4 separate regions of the Homo sapiens genome follow, and all the other regions are reported to be linked to region 1. Evidence: microRNA targets listed by miRTarBase, many of them from high-throughput screens and not tested one by one. Region 1 holds a microRNA gene; each other region holds the end of a gene's coding sequence. Distances are between the middles of the regions.
Evidence for each region. The annotated mature microRNA hsa-miR-609 reads AGGGUGUUUCUCUCAUCUCU and lies in region 1 at 1,062-1,081, opposite strand. An mRNA with a match to its seed (bases 2 to 7 or 8) in the 3' UTR can be bound and repressed. Matches are read on the target gene's strand: a 7mer-m8 pairs with bases 2 to 8, a 7mer-A1 pairs with bases 2 to 7 and ends in A, and an 8mer does both.

Region 2: miRTarBase lists ZNF131 as a target of hsa-miR-609. Seed matches in the 3' UTR shown: 7mer-A1 at 2,161-2,167.
Region 3: miRTarBase lists LRRC10 as a target of hsa-miR-609. Seed matches in the 3' UTR shown: 7mer-A1 at 1,446-1,452.
Region 4: miRTarBase lists GLUD1 as a target of hsa-miR-609. Seed matches in the 3' UTR shown: 7mer-m8 at 1,659-1,665.

Annotation. Positions count from the first base shown.
Region 1 is chr10:104,217,788-104,221,026 of GRCh38, forward strand. It overlaps MIR609 (microRNA 609), which reads right to left and starts at 1,096; the gene lies at 1,002-1,096. All of the region lies in intron 3 of CFAP43 (cilia and flagella associated protein 43), which reads right to left.
Region 2 is chr5:43,174,905-43,177,904 of GRCh38, reverse strand. ZNF131 (zinc finger protein 131) reads right to left here. Exons shown (of 7, transcript NM_001330707.2): 7 at 1,583-3,000. The coding sequence ends at 2,772. Among named protein-coding and RNA genes, the nearest start is that of NIM1K, 16 kb to the left of the region's middle.
Region 3 is chr12:69,607,303-69,610,541 of GRCh38, reverse strand. It overlaps LRRC10 (leucine rich repeat containing 10), which reads left to right. Exons shown (of 1, transcript NM_201550.4): 1 at 1-1,978. The coding sequence ends at 537. Among named protein-coding and RNA genes, the nearest start is that of LRRC10, 2.0 kb to the left of the region's middle.
Region 4 is chr10:87,048,994-87,052,232 of GRCh38, reverse strand. GLUD1 (glutamate dehydrogenase 1) reads left to right here. Exons shown (of 13, transcript NM_005271.5): 13 at 363-2,031. The coding sequence ends at 482. Among named protein-coding and RNA genes, the nearest start is that of FAM25A, 30 kb to the right of the region's middle.

The DNA.
Region 1 (3,239 bases):
AAATGGAGTTCATAATTGCCATAGGAGTTGAGTGTGGAGGAAGGGGACTTTCTCTCAATAATTAATACCCTTAATACAAATTTAGCAGATTTATAATTTCAGGTCTGTTTACATTTGTTGTCAAAGCTTCATAAACTATTTACATAAATGAAAGCATGTTCGAGTTTCTAAATGTTGCTATGACAAGCAAACAGAGAAACTGCTTAGACAACACTTGCTTGCGCCGTAAATACATATGGCAACACCTGGTCATTCTTAAAGAAATGCTTGTGTTTCCAAGGCCGGGCGCAGTGGCTCACGCCTGTAATCCCAGCACTTTGGGAGGCTGAGGCGGGCGGCTCATGAGGTCAGGAGATTGAGACCATCCTGGCTAACACGGTGAAACCCCGTCTCTACTAAAAATACAAAAAATTAGCTGGGCGTGGTGGCGGGTGCCTGTAGTCCCAGCTACTCGGGAGGCTGAGGCAGGAGAATGGCGTGAACCCGGGAGGCAGAGGTTGCAGTGAGCCGAGATCGCACCACTGCACTCCAGCTTGGGTGACAGAGTGAGACTGTGTCTCAAAAAAAAAAAAAAAAAAAAAAAGGAAAGAAATGCTTGTGTTTCCAAAAAGAATTTTTTTTCAAGTCATAAGCCTTATGCAATTCTTCCAAGGTAATAATGTGTTTGTCCTTCCTTCTCAAGCAGTGGTTCAAGGCATCTCAAGGCACATTGCTCTCTGAGGTTCTGATTTAACTGGCCGAGGGGAGAGGGGAAGAGTGGGCACTAACATTTTTTAAAAGCTTCACAAGTCATTCCAGCATGTAGTCAGTGTTGAGAACCTTGGTACTAAAGGCTCTTGCATCTTCCTACTGTCACTTGTCCTCACCAAAAGCCCTTGAGGTAGTCCCTGGGTCAGGCAATGATCTCTTTCATGCAAGCCCTGCATTTCAACAGAAGGTTTGTGCCCTTCCCCTCATCCTTTTCCCTCCCCATTGGCTCCCAAAATACACCGGTGGTTTAGGGTTCCTCTGCTGTTCCTAGGGTGTTGCCCTCATCTCTACTATTTAACCCATTATAGACCAGAGATGAGAGAAACACCCTAGGAACAGCCGAGCAGCATGACAGCGGGAGACTGGACGCTGACCCCGAGGAGCCACCACACCAACCACAGCTGCTCGTGCCCAGACAACTGCATGTGACAGAAGGAAACACATGTTGGTGATTTGGGTTTCTGTGACCACAAATGAACCTAAGTCCTAACTGATATATCAGCTGCCAACTAGACATCTCCGTTTGTTCATCTCAAGCACTCTCAGTTCAGTTTGTCCCCCAGCTCATCTTCCCCCATTGCCTCCCCTAAATTCCCTGCCCCCAAGCCCTCAGTATCTCTCTGAATAGCATCAGAGTGTCCCTAAGTTGCCCAAGTCACACGCAACTCTGGATATAACCCTAGACCCATCCCTCTTCCTCAGCACGACACCCAATATTTAGTCAGTTACAAGTCTCATGATGCTACCTCCTAAACACCTCCCAAATAGTTTCACTTCCCTCCATCCCTACTCCCACCCTAGTCCATGACACAGTCATCTCTCACCTGGACCACCACAGCCTCCTAATTGATGTTCATGCCTTGTTTCCTTCCAATATACCTTCCACAGTACGAAAGTATTGGAGATACTTTCATTGGAAATAATTGGCTGAAAGGAATCTTCTTAAATGCAGATATAATTGTGTCACTTCCCTGCTTAAAACCCTTTAGTAGCTCCCCACTGCCTTTAGGATAAAGAATTTGTCCATTAGCCTAGCTTATATGGAGTGTGAGTATCCTTCCCAGTATGCCTAGGAGAAACCCAGTTTAGGCTAAAGTGCCCTGCATTCATCAGCAACACCCTCTTTCACTCTCAAAAGCATCCTGATTTGGATGATAAACCACATGGTCACCTACATATAGGGCTGCTCATAAGCTCACCTCTGACTGTCCCTCCAAGCTTGCCTCTCTCATGGCAAATCTCTTGTTCCCGTTATCATGACCTTTTCATTGAAACCTGCTGTGCTTTTTCTACTTCATGGCCTTTGCACATGCCATTCCTCTGCCTAGGATGTTCTTTCTTCTCGTCACAAGGCTGATTCCTGTTCATCCTTTAGGTATTGCTATGGGTTGAACTGTGCCTCCCCCAAATTCCCGTGTTAATATCCTAACCCCCAGCACCTCAGAATGTGACCTTATTTGGAAATATGATCTTTACAGAGGGTAATCAAGTTAAAATGAAGTCATTAGGATGGGCCCTAATCCAATAAGTCTGGTGTTCTTATATAAAGGGAACATTTGGAGACAGACACACACAGGGAGAATGCCATGTGAAAATAAAAGCAGAGATCTGGGTGATGTGTCTGTAAGCCAAGGACTGCCAGCAAACAAGTGAGCAGAAGTTGGTGAGAGGCGCGGGGGCAGATTCTCTCTCACAGCCCTCAGTAGGAACCAACCCTGCTGAGACCTTGATCTCAGAATTCTAGTCTCCAGAACTGGGAGGCAATATACGCATGCTGTTTAAGCCACCCAGTCTGTGGTACTTTGCTATGGCAGGCCTAGCTAATTAATAGAAGTATCTGTTTAAACATTACCTCTCCTTCCAGGAAGCCTTCCCTGACCATTCCCCTCCACCAACAGACTATGTGAGATGCCCCTACTACAGGTTCCCATTGTGCCTTAGATCAATGAAAGCTATAAAAGAGCTTAGAAACCAAATGAGTTTAAAGCCCACTCAGCAACTCACCAACTATATAAGTTTAGGCAAGTAGCTATAAGAACAAAAAAAAAATGAAACTTGGAAAAAAGAAAAATTGTGTTGGCTTGATTTCTCATATCATGCTGGGAAGCATTTTCCAGCAAGCCTCCTCGAACAAAAACCAGACTTTGTACCTTGCTTTGCCCCATATCTGACACTCCTGGGGAATGTAACTTTGTTGTCATAATACATACTAACAGCCTCGATGTGATAAAGGCAGGCATGCTTTTACAGGTTAAACTCTAGAACATGTTCAATGCTATGATTGTATGCCCTGGTAGAACAGTTAAGTTTAAGGTCCTAAGGTTTTAGAGACCTCTGGAAAGATAATCATTCACATATCTAACCTAGAAATTTTATGTAACCACTACTTTTTCTAACTCTATATGAGTGAGCGTGTGTGTGTGTGTGTGTGTGTGTGTGTGTGTGTGTGTGTGTTTGAGACGGAGTCTCGCTCTGTCACCCAGGCTGGA
Region 2 (3,000 bases), not on the chromosome of region 1:
CACATCAACATGCTGGGAAAGTGGCATGCCAAGTGAGGGCAGAGAAACCTCTACTATTCTCCTCCACAACCCCCTCCATCCACCTTACTCTATGCATCTCTTCCATTTGGCTGTTCCTGAATTGTATACTTACTGTAGTCGTTAAGTATAGTGCTTTCCTGAGTTGTTTCAATGCATTATTGAACTTGGGGGGATGGGAAGGCCATAAGAACCCTAAATTTACGGTTGGCTGGGCAGAAGCGCGGGTAGCCTGTTGATCGCATTTGTGGCTGGTGTCTGAAGTGGGGGCAATTTTGTGGTACTGAGCACTTAACTTGCTCTAAATCTGGGTGGTGTCAGATTCAATTGTTGGACACCCAATTGATGTCTGAGAATTGCTGTTGAAACGGAGTAGAGATAGAAAAGCCTCTCATCGTTCTCAGTGCACTTGGGACTTATTTCTATGTGATCATCATTGCACACTCTACTGTCCAACTTGGTACCTCATACTGTAGACTTATCTTAAAACTCCAGTACAAATACAGTAGAACACTGGAGGACTAAATATCCAGTTTGCTTCAGTACTTGAAGCAAATATACATCAGTTGTTAACAGCTGTTTTATGTTCTACATAAAGTGCTTTCCAACTACAAAATGTTATTCAACATACAGTTTATCACCAGTAGATAGTTTTCCTCTACTTTTGCAATCAAATTTACTGGCATTCTGGGTACACTGATAGCTTCTATACCTTTTGGGAAAAGAAAAATGAACTATATCTGCATCTCAAATCTACCTCGAAAGGTCTTGACAAATGTGAAAACTCAAATAATTTTAACACTTTGATGTACCTTTGCCCTTGATCTTTACCTTGTGGTCAGAACTCTTGTTTTAAAATCCTTGTTTCATACCTTAGCTTAAGGGCATAGTATGCGCTATTTTCAGCATTCAAAATTCACCAGATACTAACTAGTAATTTACATATTTGAGACCACTATCTGTTAGGGTTTTTTTTCTTAAACAACTCAGGAACATTGGCATCCTAAGGCAAACTGAAAATTCACTGGGATATAATTTAATTATATTATTGGTATTTTCCAATTTCAAATAAAAACTATACTGTTAAATAAGCTTTGCAGTAGATACCCAACTACCAAACAGTACACACTTGGAAGTGTTCATACCCTTATTTTGATCTTAAAAACGTGGCCCCCTTAATACAATGGTTGGCTCTATCTCCAGATTTATATCTAAATCTGACTTCTCCAATGCTGGGAAGCCACTCTCTTCAGCGTATTTTTGTAAATGTGATACCATTTAACGTCACGATTACCAAAGGGGGCTAATCGCATTGGTCTTTTACATTTGACACAGTTAAGTGGAGAATTCCTGCTATTGTGCCTACCATGTAAGAACTATTAGCATAAAGAATATGAACTACTTCCATGCTTTTGAGCTGATTTTGGGGGGTTGGAGGTGTGATGGAAAATTTATCACAATTCATGCATCAGTCATGTTAACACGGGTAAAGACACATGAGGAACTATCTCTGCCCAGATATAAACTTTCACGCTGGTAATTTTTTAAAAAAGAGTCATGAACACATAATTTTAAAGTTTACTTAAAAAATGTAAAGAACTCCCAATATTTAACAGGTAAAAAAAATAGCATATTGGTCTATGGGTTTGTTATATTTTATTTTCCAAGTAATACTGATTAAAAATATTTACACACCTACTTTTAAGTCCACAGTTTAGCACTCTTATTTGTATGGCTTTAAAAGTTATAGCACAAGATCTTTACATTAAGAATTGGGGGAAAAGATTCCATTCAAAACAAAGCCTGATAATTATATACATGTCTTTCTCTGTACTTTATTTTAAATACATTAATTTTTAAATGCTGCTCATCTTTTTCTCATCTGGTGGTAAAATACTAGTGCAACTTTTCATCAAAATAAAGTTTACCACAGATGTAAATAAATTTTCCCAATTGAAAATGGCCCTTCAGTGGCCATTAAATAAAATTTCTCAACCTAACTTAAGTGAAAAAGAACTGGTGGTTGTCATTATAACCAAAAATATAAAGTATTATAGCATCATCTACATTGCTCCTTACAACACAAACTTTGAAAGAACCAGAGATGCTTTATAGAAGTTCAGTTGGTTTTGAGAAGGCACATGGGTGTGGATTTTTTTTTTTTTTTAACATTCTAGAAATTTTGCCACCACCACTCTTTCTGTTGCAAAGATGGCATCTGTGACTACTGGGGTAGACAAGAACGTTTGTTCAAACTAAAGAAAGCCAGAAGCCAAAATTTAACTGCACAGTAACAATGCACTTTTCATCATGCAGCCTTGTGTTTCCTATATTATTCAATTTTCTAACATGCATTAGAATACATAAACTTGTATTCTAATGATTTAAGTTTGATTTTACAATATGGAAAAAATTTGAGGAAGAACATGACCTGGGAAAGAGAAAAGGAAGAACTTTTACCACAATGAAAATAGATACATTCGTACCCAACTATATAATAAGAATATAATCCATTTAAGTTTCCAGAAATATACTTCTCAAAACTCCCCTTCAGTTATGGAAAAGATCCCTCCTCTGTGGCAATAAGTAGGGGGAGGGGAATCAATGTGTTTCAACGGACAACAGTTCAGCACAACAGGAAACAGCTTAACTTTGGTCCACTTGTCTGTTAGGCTTAATTAAGGACAGTCAAACTGCCCATAATCAGTTCAAAAACCCAACAAGTAAATTTAAAAATATATTCATGTGTAATTTCATTCTAAAACTGGCAGAGCTGTTCTGTCCTCATTCTCTGCCTTTTCTGCTTCAGAATCCACTGTTGGCTTGGTCTCTAAATCCTCAGCATCTTCGTGATCTTCCCTGGCAGCCTCAGCAGCATCTGCTTGGCTAGACTCTCTCTCCTCTTGGTTCATGATTTCTGGGGTCACGTGGTCCAAATCTGCTTCTAGAAGTTCAGTTTGTACTTCCACTGGCATTTGATTG
Region 3 (3,239 bases), not on the chromosome of region 1:
CTCTGCATCCTCTACCTGGGCAACAACAAACTCTGCGACCTCCCCAGTGAGCTGAGCCTGCTCCAGAACCTCAGGACCCTGTGGATCGAGGCCAACTGCCTCACCCAGCTGCCGGATGTGGTCTGTGAGCTGAGTCTCCTTAAGACTCTGCATGCCGGCTCCAACGCCCTGCGTTTGCTGCCAGGCCAGCTCCGGCGCCTCCAGGAGCTGAGGACCATCTGGCTCTCGGGCAACCGGCTAACTGACTTTCCCACTGTGCTGCTTCACATGCCCTTCCTGGAGGTGATTGATGTGGACTGGAACAGCATCCGTTACTTCCCCAGCCTGGCGCACCTGTCAAGTCTGAAGCTGGTCATCTATGACCACAATCCTTGCAGGAACGCACCCAAGGTGGCCAAAGGTGTGCGCCGTGTGGGGAGATGGGCAGAGGAGACGCCAGAGCCCGACCCTAGAAAAGCCAGGCGCTATGCGTTGGTCAGAGAGGAAAGCCAGGAGCTACAGGCACCAGTCCCTCTACTTCCTCCTACCAACTCCTGAGGAGCTTCAGTTGCAAGTCAATGCCAAGGACCCAACTGCAGCATGTTCTGGAAGCCTCTCCATTGGAGTGGAAAGGATGGCTCTGGGTCATTTGGGAGTGGCTCTGCTAGTAGAGACTGATGGAGAGAGCCAGGTGGAATGCCATAAATCACACTGAGAAAATATTTCTGGCAAACAGCTCCTCTTCCAGAGGGGAGTTGTGTGCCAATGATGGCATGACAATCCAGAGATCATAACTTCTTTGCAAGAAAACAGCTTCTCCACACATGTATTTTGAAACACTGAAGAGCAAAAGGGGCTGGGACACTCTGAACTCCTGCACTCTCCAGAAGTGACTGGTCATGAAGCTCATGAGCTCCTCAAATAAGGTATTTGCCATAGAACTAAATATTCTGGTGGTCTGTCTCTTTGCAGGACATATTTTCTTTACTGTAAATGACCATAAACAGTATCAATGTATCACTGAGGCCACCGAAAAGGACATTTCTACCTAGGCAATCAGTCAGATTCACAGAAAAAAGTTGTTTGTTGTTGTAAAGGCTCAAGATGAAACTCTTTCCCCAGCAGTTTAGTGCCTGCTGAAAAGATCCCTGATGGACAATACTTCTTGGTGGACTCCAGCTGCCCCTTTTATTATTATTAGAGACAAGGTCTCACTCTGTTGCTAGGCTGGAGTGCAGTGGCACAATCATGGCTCACTGCAGCCCCGAACTACTGGGCTCAAGCCTTCCTCCCGCCTCAGCCTGCCCAGTAACTGGTACTACAGATGTGCACACCTGGCTAAGTCTTTAATTTTTTCGTAGAGATGAGGTCTTGCTATGTTGCCCAAGCTAGTTTCAAACTCCTGGGCTCAAGCGATGCTCCTGCTTCAGCCTCCCAAAGTGCTGGGGTTACAGGCATGAGCCACCACACCCAGCCTTCAGCTGTCACCTTAAACTTGACAGTGGCTCATGCTGATTTAGTTCATTTTCCCTAAAAGGTTTGTCCCAAGATCTGCTCCCAACAGTTGACTGTCACTGACAATGTTGGAAGTCATCTGGAAAAGAGAACCTCTGTGGTAATGTGGTCTCATTAAAGTCAAGCCTTGTTGTGATTCCTGTCTACCTCCCTGAAGCAAAGCCCTTCTGTTTATTCACACTAATGAGCCAGAGCTGAGCTAAATTGAATCCCTGTCCTTGGAGGAAAACCACATTTCCAGAAGCATGTTAGTTTAAAGGTAGTAGGTGAGAAATGTGTTCTCTTGAAACAAGCACTTTGAAATTTGAATAGGAAGTTGTAGTGTATATAGGAAGTCTCTGCCTCTTTCGCCTAGTATCTCTGCCTTTGTTTCAATTTGTTTTGATTTTTACAGACTGTTTTGACAATGTATAAACCAAGGTATTTTGTTTTTTGGAAGTATGTAAATTGTGACCTTCCCACAAATATATAAACTTTAAAGAAATTGTTGTCAGTGGGTAATTTAATAATACAATTCTTTATGTACTTGAACGTTTTCAGCAAACAAGGACACAAAAAGTGTTATCTTAACTAAAACATACAGTACCAAGTTTTTAAAAGGATGTTTTCTGTAAAAGCATCTTAACCCAACAAAGTTTGGTTCTAAAATGACATTACACAGCAGACCTATTTTCATGTATGTCTTCCTACCAGAAATATTTCCTGCTAAACTAGAGGAAGGATGATGTTGCATAATTCCTTCCTATCGTCACCTCCCATCTGCAGAGCATTTGCAACCCATTGATCAGACTGCCAAAAAAGGTCCCTTTAATCATTTAATGTAATAGGTTTAAACTTTCAGGTCAAACATATTTAACTCCTTTAGAAACAAGTCCATATTTCTGTTGGACAGTTAGGATTTATCTCATTCCTAATGACGGAAGCCAAATTATACTCAGCTGATGCTAGAAACTTTTGTCAACAGAACTTGCATTCTAAGCTTAATCTATAGCAAGGTTTATAGATTTCTGACTTTCTTTTGACCCTGTCTTACCCTTCCCAAGATTAATCGGCCATTCTGTAGTTGCAGACTATAACCATAAAACAGAGTGAAGCCAATTGATCCATACAGAACTGTCATCTAAAGAGCTAACTGGTCTGAATCAGTAGTCAAATTATAAACATTTTGGCCCATAATCAAGCTGTTTTCTTCTAAAACAGTCAATACACAAAGAACATTTCTCAAATGGTATGGTCAAGTGTTCGCTGTTGAATTTGCTTTCCAAAAATGTTTTCACTGTAGATTTTCAATCAATTTTTTTTTTTTTTTTTTGAGACAGAATCTTGCCGTGTCGCCCAGGCCGGAGTGCAGTGGCGCTATCTCGGCTCACTGCAAGCTCCGCCTCCCGGGTTCACGCCATTCTCCTGCCTCAGCCTCCCTCAGCCTCCCAAGTAGCTGGGACTACAGGCGCCCGCCACCACGCCCAGCTAATTTTTTGTATTTTTAGTAGAGACAGGGTTTCACTGTGTTAGCCAGGATGGTCTCGTCCTGACCTCGTGATCTGCCCACCTCGGCCTCCCAAAGTGCTGGGATTACAGGTGTGAGCCACCGCAACCGGCCTTCAATCAATTTTATAAAGTATATAAATGCATACTTACATTTCTATAACCCTTCTAATAGTTTCTGGAAATGTTGACACAATTAGAAAGTAAAATAAGAAAATGTTGAAGCACCAAATGTAACTTTTTTGCTCCTGATTTTTAAG
Region 4 (3,239 bases), 17 Mb from region 1:
TTACAGGTGTGAGCAACCGCACCCCTGCCTAATTTTTGTATTTTTAGTAGAGACAGGGTTTTACCATGTTGGCAAGTCCGGTCTTGAACTCCTGAGCTCAAGTGATCTGCCTACGTCGGCCTCCCAAAGTGCTGGGATTACAGGCGTGAGCCACCGCACCCAGCCACCCCATTGTTAAGTCCAGAGAATTAGGCCCTCCTGCCTAGAGGTTCTGCTGCTAGAGTAGTTTGTCTTTGGCTGCCCAAGTCCTGCCTTGAAACAATGAGAGGGTAACTTGGACCAGGCCTGTCTGGGCCTTGTGTGTTTATGGCCTGGCCACTTGAGTCAGGATCATCTTCACTGCATTTTCTCTTTCATTTCAGCAAATTATGCGCACAGCCATGAAGTATAACCTGGGATTGGACCTGAGAACAGCTGCCTATGTTAATGCCATTGAGAAAGTCTTCAAAGTGTACAATGAAGCTGGTGTGACCTTCACATAGATGGATCATGGCTGACTTCCTCACTATCCTCTTCACATGTAACTTCTGCAGACCTATCACAAGTTTACATGTAACCACAGAAATCCCTTTCTCTCCTGACTCATTAATAATGGATACCATTCTCAACAAGTCAATCCAAGTCAGCCCGTTAAGGAGAAAGAAATTAAGGTTAGCGGATCATGTACAAGCTGAGTGTGAAAGTAGAAATCACCTACACCAGAGAGCCATTTTGGTATTTTGCCTTTAAATAAAAAGCCTCCTTTATCTGGCTGTGCAGCCTTGCTCTGTGGCTTTTCCCAACACAATCAGTGCTAGTGCTGGGGAGGAACAGTCAAGAGCAGTCAGTTGCTTGCTTATTTTTTCTGGATGAGTCTGGGACACACTGTAACTTTAACACATTTAAGAAGTAGGTGTGTGGCCTTTTCAGAAGGTGGCATGGTCCTCAAGTGAGTTCTTAGTATTTTATATCAGCAAAATAATTCAATTTTGCAGGTTGCAAACAAATATAAAACCTGTTTCTGTTTATGAATATTATTCTTTTAGAATAGAATAAGTACATGCTGCTGTAATAAAATTGCCTTTAATCACTTAACAAGCCTAACCTTGACTCAAACAGTGAATGCCTATAGAAATAATAAATGAAAAAAACTAGTATTTTTATATCATAAAACAATGTCATTTATAGCTTATCATTCATGTATTGTCCAGCAGACATTAAAAGCCCTGTGGATAATTAAGTTATCTTCATACCTGCAAAATGGTGGAGGCTATTTTCATTAAAACTGTCAGAATTTGCTTACTATAATTATGATACAGTCCAAAGAATGCAGTCACTTTTTATCATGTTAACTAATTGTTCTCTTTTGAAGATCTATGGTTGACTAATTAAACAATAATTCAAGTAGAGTGTCCCAGAAAAAAACCACTTGGGCTCCCTGTTTGGAGTCTGGCTGGCTCTGAGCATTGCCAATGGCCCCTACTCACCTGACTTTGTATCCTCTCCTTTTAGAGGCTTTGCATTCTGCACCCAGCTTCACTAACAGTGGGCTGAAAACATCCTTGGGTTGAGTGTTTCATTTGGGAGTTATTTGGCCAGGGCCTTTTGAACAGTAGTGTCCCCATGAAGTGCTAGATAATATATGTGTAAGAGTCAGCTTTTTTTTTTTTTTTAACTCTAACACCCTTCAGAAATTTCTAACTACTTTGTAACTGCATGGCTTAACCTGGTGATAAAAGCAGTTATTAAAAGTCTACGTTTTCCAAAACTTACGTTTCTTTTCTGTGTTTTTACATGTGGTAGTTTCTCTTTTCATAAGTTATAATACTGCAATTGGATTTCTGAAATGTTTATAGCGACCACCTGTATAACATTTCCTTCCACTTTATTGTGAGCTGCCCAGATTTTATTCTTGAATTGTTTTTTTTTTTTTTGTTCGGTGCTTTACACGTTCAGAGAAACTTCCCGAGTAACGAACTATAGAAATGATCCCTGAAAGCATAGTCTTTATTCTCGAATTATTTTGTATTTTATTAAATAATATGAACAGCTGTTCTTGAGAAAGAGGCTCTAATGTTGAAAGCTGATAGTGAAGTAACTTTTAGTGCCGTTTTTCACTAAAGGGGATTTAATGTGGAATAATTTAGCCACAGAATGTAACAACTATTGAAGAGAGAATACTAACTGTAATCAGAACTGGATTCTAGACTTGATTCCACCAGTTACTTAACTGCCAGTGTGAAGCCTGGCTTTCATTTGGTCTTTGTCCGTATGTCACAGTTCTGCCTCTGCATGCTCCTGGCATAGGGTCAGTCAGATAAACAGGCCCCCAGTATATGGGCATAGTGAGCCCTTCCCCAGCATGGTGGTGTCTATCTGCACTCTAGGTGGGCTACTAAAATGTGTAAGGGGGAAAGTGATACAAAAACCAGTTCCAGAATGTTAGAATAATGGTGGGGCAGCAGATTTAAGTCATGTGAATGTGGGATAAGTCTTAGTGGTGGCCTTTGACTATATATTGGAAATACTGATTTTTTTTTGGTTGGGGGGTTGGTTTTTGTTTTTTGAGACAGTGTCTTGCTCTGTCACCCAGGCTGGAGTGCGGTGGTGCAATCACGGCTCACTGCATCCTCTACCTCCTGGGATCAAGCAGTTACTCTACCTCAGCCTCCTGAGTAGCTAGGACCACATGTATGGGTACGACACCTGGCTAATTGTTTTTATTTTTTTGTAGACACGAGGTCTCCCTATGTTGCCCAGGCTGGTCTCACACTCCTGGACTCAAGTGATCCTTCCACCTTGGCCTCCCAAAGTACTAGGATTACAGGCATGAGCCACCATGCCTGGCCAATGGTAATTTTTTAAAGATTAATGTTGAGGAGTATTGTTGATAGTAATATTAGAAAACTAAATTGCCTGTGCTAGCTATATAAAGATGAGAGCACTAGTGTCAGTAATTTTGGCTCCTGAAGGTTTTAGTTTTTAAAAATCTGGTCAATTACTCTTTTTACCTTGACAGAAATTTTCTTTTTTTTTTTTTTTTTTTTTTTTTTTTGAGACGGAGTCTCGCTCTGTCCCCAAGGCTGGAGTGCAGTAGCGTGATCTCGGCTCACTGTAACCCCCCGCCCCCTGGGTTCAAGCAATTCTGCTGCCTTAGCCTTCCTAGCAGCTGGGACTACAGATGCGTGCCAGCACGCCCAGCTAATTTTCTCGTATTTTGATTAGAGATGGAGTTTCACCATATTGGCCAGGCTGGTCTC